2 linked regions of the Homo sapiens genome follow. The protein of the gene in region 1 purifies or fractionates together with the protein of each later gene. This does not show direct contact. Each region holds a gene or a part of one and is shown on either strand. Other genes may lie near its edges.

Evidence for each region.
Region 2: the proteins of C20orf96 (region 1) and GATB purify together in Homo sapiens (affinity purification with mass spectrometry; one large-scale study listed by BioGRID and IntAct). This does not show direct contact.

Annotation. Positions count from the first base shown.
Region 1 is NC_000020.11:270,363-273,750, reverse strand, and holds the end of C20orf96 (uncharacterized protein C20orf96), read left to right. Parts: intron 1-2,483; coding exon 2,484-2,544; 3' UTR 2,545-2,888; downstream 2,889-3,388.
Region 2 is NC_000004.12:151,705,508-151,709,007, forward strand, and holds part of GATB (glutamyl-tRNA(Gln) amidotransferase subunit B, mitochondrial isoform 1 precursor), read right to left. Parts: intron 2,595-3,500; coding exon 2,481-2,594; intron 1-2,480. UniProt on the Homo sapiens protein: Allows the formation of correctly charged Gln-tRNA(Gln) through the transamidation of misacylated Glu-tRNA(Gln) in the mitochondria. The reaction takes place in the presence of glutamine and ATP through an activated gamma-phospho-Glu-tRNA(Gln).

The sequences.
Region 1 (3,388 bases):
TGTGCACCACCATGCCTGGCTAATTTTTATGTTTTTTAGTAGAAACGGGGTTTTGCCATGTTGGCCAGGCTGGTCTCAAACTCCTGACCTCAAGTGATCTGCCTGCCTTGGCCTCCCAAAGTGCTGGGATTACAGGTGTGAACCACCATGCCCAGCCTGATTCTGCATTTCTAAGAAGCTACCCGGTGATGCTTATGTTACTGCTCTATGAACCAACCACATGTTGAGCCTTGAGCTGTGAAGGAGCTATGGTTGGAAGGAACTTGGCATTGACACGGAGCTGAGTGAGGCCAGAGTGGTTGGAATGCAGAGTGACAGGGAGAGTGGCGGGAAGGGAGCAGGGCAACTCAGCCCCTAGGGACCTCCATGCAGTGCCCTGTAGGCCCAGATGTTCTGCCTGATCCCAGAAGCAAAGGATCTTAAGCCACATGATCAGATTTGTATTCCAAAAAAGTCAGTTTGAAAAGAGCATGGTGGGCTGGGTGTGGTGGCTCATGCCTGTAATCTCAGCGTTTTGGGAGGCCAAGGTGGGAGGATTGCTTGAGCCCAGGAGTTCAAGACCAGCTTGGGCAACATGGTGAAACCCCATCTCTACAAAAAATACAAAAGTTAGCCAGGCGTGGTGGCGTGCGCCTGTAGTCCCAGCTGCAGTGAAGGCTAAGGCAGGAGGATTGCTTGAGCCCTAGAGACAGAGGTTGTAGTGAGCCAAGATGGTGCTACTGCCTTCCAGCCTGCTTAATAGAGCAAGACTCTTTCTTAAAAGAAAAGAAAAGAGCATGGGGATGAGATTGGCAAGGAGCCAGAATGGCAGCTGGAATTCTAGTGGGTGTGAGGGCAGTTGTCCAGGGGAACATGGGAAGTGGCCTGGCCAAGAGTGTGGCAGAAGAAATGGGAGAAATAGATAGATTGGAGAAATATTTAGGAAAGTAAGAAGGACTTGCATGACTTGGGAAGTACAGGAAAGGGAGGTATCAAGAATAACCCCTGGGTTCCTGACTTTTATAATGGGGTGGTGGTGATGTCAAATGCAGAGATTGGGAAGGCTGGGGCGGGGTGAGGGATGTGTATGTAGGCACAGTCAAAAAGTTTATTTGGAGGCAGGCATGGTGGCTCACACCTGTAATCCCAGTGCTTTAGGAGGATGAGGAAGAAGGATCGCTTGAGGCTGGGAGTTCGAGACCAGGGGGACAACATAGTGAGACCTCCATCTCTACAAAAAATTAAAAAATTAGCCAGATGTGGTGGCACGTGCCTGTGGTCCCAGCTATTTGGGAGGCAGGAGGATCGATTGAGGAGTTCCAGGCTGCAGTGAGCTGTGATTGCACCACTGCATTCCAGCCTGGGTGACCGAGTGAGACCATGTCTCAAACAAAACAAAACAAAACAAAAACCATACAGTTGACTTGGACAGTAAGTTTGATTTATATGAGGTGCCAAGGTGGAGTCATTGGGTGGGCAATTGACAAGATGAGTGTAGACCTCAGAGGACAGATATTGGCTGGAAGTAGAAATTTAGGTGTTGCCAGCATAGAGATGAACTTTTTTTTTTTACTATTATTATGAAAAATTTCAAATATAAAGAAGAGAGAATGATATAATGAATAGCCAGTTTTGCCCATCTAGATTTAGAAATTTTTTTTTTTTCTATGTTGGTTTCATGTTCATTTTTTTAATAGTATTTGTAAATTGCAAGTATCCTGACATTTCCTGCCTAAATACTTCATGTGTATCAGCAGATTATTGAAACCATGAGAGAGGATGGTCTCCTTGGAAGAGAGAAAAGAGAGTGAAACAGAATGTAATCCTTCAGCCTCTTAAATATTTGTGCTGGTCCCTGCAATGGGGAATATATTGCTGATGGGAATCCATCTCTCTTGCTACTTTCATGGAAATAATAATGCCTGTCATTTACTGAGCACTTATTACCTGCTGGCATGGTCTCATTTAATCTTTCCACCAATGACTGAGGTTAGAATATTAAACCCATTTGACAGATGAGGAAACTGAGGCTCACTTGGGGTCTGGGACTTAATGAGTGCTTTTCACTTAAGTGCCAACTGAAGGAGTGAGGCTGGGAGAGTAGAAATAGCTTGCTCAAGGTGACACAGGTCAAAGTTATCAAACCTGTCATCCTCACTCCAAAGCCAGTGATCATCTTGAGGGCCCTCAGCATTTCAGAGCTGAGTTCCTGCTCCCTCTTGACCTCAGACTTGTCAGGGGAACATTTGTCCTGCCAAACTCATTTCTTTTCCATTTTTGATGTGTGTGTATGTGTGTGTGTGTGTGTGTGTGTGTGTGTGTGTGTGTATGCTTGTGTATGCACAGTTGGGCTTTGAGGTCACAGATAGATCACAGATTGTATTTTGGGATTGCCCCCCAACCCAAGTACGTACCAGAGTTCTAAAGAGCAGGGCTCCTCTGAGTGGGTGCTCCCACACCGCCACCTCTGGTCTCTCATGGCCTTCTGTGCTGCCTCCCACCAGGTGCACCCCAGACATGGATGTCATCCTCAACATTCCTGTGGAAGAGCCACTACCCTTCTAGATGGCAGTGCCATGGGCCGCCCTCCCCTCCTGCTCTCTTCCCAGCACCTGGAGCCTTGGATCATTTACTTCCAGGACCGGATCTCCATTCAGACCCTGATCTACAGTCTCCCTGCTCCCTCTGCCCTTCCTCCCTCTTTCTTTCCCTCCCTCCCTCCCTCCCTTCTTCCCCCCTTCCCTTCCCTCCTCCTTCCTTCCTCCTCTCCCTCCCTCCCTCCTTTCTTTCTTCCTGTGGTTTTTTCCTCTCTTCTTCCCTTCTTTCTGGTTGGTGCTGCTGGGCCAGGTGGGAATTTCTGATTAAATCTGCTATTCCTTTTTTACCAATAAAGCTGGATTTACATTTGCTTTTTTGCCAGTGTCTCGGGGTCCCCAGCTAGGTCTTGCAGAAGATGTGGTGGGAACGGACTTCGTCTTATGATAAGGGGCGGGCAACTGTGCTAACTGCATCTGGGGCTCAAAACTTCTCCAGAAGAAGTGCTGGAGCAACCCCCTGCCTGAGTCTCCATGGCTCAGTGGCTCTGGGCCACTCCCTCCTGGTGCAGTGGGAGCCCAGCTTCTCTCCAATCTGTGCCCAGACCTATTGAGGGCATTGTCGGGGCTGACAGGCTTATTGATTTTAATACCCCTGGAACTTGCTAGGCCTTCAGTGCTTGGAACAACTCAGAAGGGCTACTCTGGCTCCAGAACTTCCTGAAGGCTCAGCTGCAACTACCCTTGGGCCTGCACTGCAGCTGAACTTCTCCCTGTGCCCAATCCTGCATATTTCTGTCTTCCTCAGTTGTTGATTCCAAGAGCACTCATTACTCAACATTCTGCACCCTACACTCCATCTCAGAGTTGGCCTT
Region 2 (3,500 bases), on another chromosome or scaffold:
GAGAGATTAAGCAACCCCATGCAGATGACATGACTTGGCAGAAGTGGGGCTGGGCCCAATATCTCGGTCTGAGATTGCTGCCTACCCAGGGCCCTTACCCTGGGAGTCTGGGATGGGCTTCAAAGGCTCTGGTATCCCCAAAATTATACACAAAGTGTGGGTTGTGTGCATATGTGCAGGTTTTGGAGAGAGGGTCCAGCATTTACATTATCTTTTCAGAGGGACCCACGACCCCAAATGATTAAGATCCAAGGACCCATGCCTCAGCATCAAATGAGGGAGGCTGTGGGAATCAAAACACAACCACAATTGCTAAGCTGTTGCTGCTTTTTTTTTCTTTTTTTGAGAGATGGGGGTCTCACTATGTTTTCCAGCCTAGTCTCAATCTCTTGGTCTCAAACAATCCTCCTGCCTTGGCCTCCCAAAGTGCTGGGATTACAGGCATGAGCCACTAAGCCCAGCCTGCTAAACTGCTTTATGAAAATATCTTGAGCCTCCACCTTAACTCTCCCTCCCACCATGTACTACCTTCCCTTGCCCAAACCTAAACCCTTTTATCTGAGTTGCTAAGAGGCAGCAACAGCAAAACGTGTCAGTTTTTGCTCCCCATCTCTCCCCAACTCCAGTGATCTCTTTGGTTGACACGAGATGATGGCTAAATGGCCTGACATAGGGAGAAAAAGGTGGTGAAAAATCACAGGCTTGGAGAATTGAACCCATAGTAAAGCTTTGGCTCTTCCACTCTGAGTCAGACCACAGGGAGATTTCTCCCTCAGACTGGTCCTCCAAAGAGTTCTTCATAGGACAGGAGAAGGTTAGGGGTCTCCTTCAGAACTCATGGATGACTCTACCTAAAATTGGGCTGCTTTTTTAAGGTTACCATCACCACCTCTTAAAATAACGGGTCCCAGCCCACTACCTACAGGGGGAGGTGGAACTTCCTCCATTTGTTCCAGGCTTCCTCCTCACCAACTTGGCTTATAAGGGTTTTCCCTGACTCAAACCTTTCATGGCTTTGGGAACATGGGCTATGTCCCTTTCCGGATGCAGAACAGTTCACCATCTTTAGTCTGCCTTCATATAGGAGCCTATCCCTTCCCTCTCTGCTCCCATAAGCTATCCGTTTGACCACTTTAATGCCTTTTTCCTGAAGACTGTCTTCATTGAGTGGTTGATTCACTTCAGGTTCAGGACAATAAGGTCTAATACAAGACTAGAATCATCTTTTCTGTACTGTTTCTAATACTTTTCTTGACAAGACCAGGGCTCTATTAAACATTTTGGCTACAGCAAAACTTTGGCAACAGATTCAGTTGTCTTGGTCTCTGTGCACCCTTGAAGGGGTGCACTTCAAACTCCATCCCTCCCTCTTCCTCTCTAGATAGCTTCGGTTTTAAAAAATCTTTTTAGTCCTCTGAGGTCCTCCCCTTGAATTCACAGTTACCTATATCTACGGGACTGCTCAGATATTTATCTTGCTAAACTATTTTAGTTATTATACATTTATCATCAAAGAAATACCCACAGTGTGTGCTCCAGAAAGACTACTACTTCACTGCATGGGCACATAATCTAGCAGTTAAAAAGAATATAAAAAGCAGGAAAACATAATGACCATTTAGGTCAAGCCATGGTCAATCTAAAATGAACAACCATGACCTAGTAAATCTCAAGCTGGTCAGAAAGAAGGTGGTAAATGGTAAAACACAGCCATGATCTTTTGTGGATCCTCTGATAAAGAGGTGGAGTCTAATTTCCCCTCAAGTCTGCTTTGAATTCAATGTAATTTTCTTTTTTTTTCTTAGAGACAGAGTCTTGCTCTGTCGCCCAGGCTAGAGTGCAGTGGCGTGATCACAGCTCACTACAACCTCAAACTCCTGGACTCAAGTGATCCTCCCACCTCAGCCTCTTGAGTAGCTGGGACTACAGGTGCTCACCACCATGCCTGGCTAAATTTTTAATTTTTTATAGAGATGGGGTCTTGCTATGTTGCCCAGGTGGTCTTGAACTCGTGGCCTCAAGCAATCCACCCACCTTGGCTTCCCAAAGTGCTGGGATTATAGGCATGAGGCACTGTGCCTGGCCTCAATCTACTTTGAATAGAACACATTGGAAGTGACACTGTGTGAGGTCTACAGCTTAGGACTCACTTCTGCCTTCATCCTCCCGAAATGCTCCCACTGCCTCATAAGAAAGCCAAGGCTAGGCAAGTGCATGAAGAAAGATCACATGGATGGAGAAGCCCAGCAGACATCAGCATCAAGGCCCCAAGGTATGAGAGCGACTACCATGGACCCTCTGCTTCAGCTGGCCTGCCGGTTTCCCACAGCCACATGAGTGAGCCGACACAGGACCAACAGAACGGACCAGTGAAAACGAAAGTAGTTCTTGTGTAAGCCACTAAGTTTCTGGGTTGTTTGTTACCCAGCAAGAGAGAAACAATAGGAAGAAGGACACTAGGAGCGGCAGCTGGCATTCACCTATGGCTTTGGCCAGGAACCTGATGCTGTTGAGATTCTTCACTTCCGTTCGAACGCCCAAAGGCTCCCCAGGGTGATGCACGGATATATTGGCATCCACTCTCAACTGGCCCTCTGGAAGGAGAGAAGAAAACAACTCCTTAGAAATTCTTTGAGGTGACATAGTCTTTTAAAGGCAGGGAGTGTCAAAGGAAGCAGCATCTAACTCTACCTGCTGTTTAGTTATAGCAGCCTAACTTCAGAGAAGGCACGGTTGGTTCTGAAGTAGGTCGTGGCTGGTACTTCTGGCCACTCGAGAGGGGTTACAGTCCTGAGGCATCTACAGTGTGTGCCTGTACATGTGAACATATACAGATGTGTGTGCTTATGCACATATGGAAGAGAAGTTTTAGATTCGCCAGCTGGAGAGATCTAATTTTTTTGTGCTAAACAAGAAAAACAAAACTATTAAAATGGAGATTGACTCTGCAGTTTTATACTGAAGTTTTTTTTCAAAGTGTCAGAGCTGAGTTGGAGGAAAGGCCTCATATATCTGATAACCCTACACTGCTCTCCATTGGAATGTGGATTTCTAACAGTGATTCCAGGAGATTTAGAGGAGAGTCCTTGAGAATTTGCAGCTCAAGGGCAAGAACTGAAATCTGGGCTTTCCCCCCTCCTCCTTCCTCCAGGTACTGTAATAATCTCTTCCTTCCACAAACATGACTCCGAATCCTTCCTGACTGCTCTAACGATTTGCTACAGCAGACAGACAGCACTGTTACGAAGTCAGGAGTCTGTGGTGGGACTCAGAGAGGTGCTGACCCCATGCTGGGAGGACCTTCTTTGACCCTGGAGGCCCCTCAGATTAGGAGCAACAAGCCCTAAAGAAGCAGGCAATGTGTGGGGAGGACTAAAAGGCTCTTGAGGAAGAGAGAGAGAGAAAAATCCCAAGACAAATAGATGTAGGTAAGAAAGAATCACATTTGGCACCCTACAAAGTAAAGCTCTCAGATTCTCTGTTCCTCGTTTCATTTACAA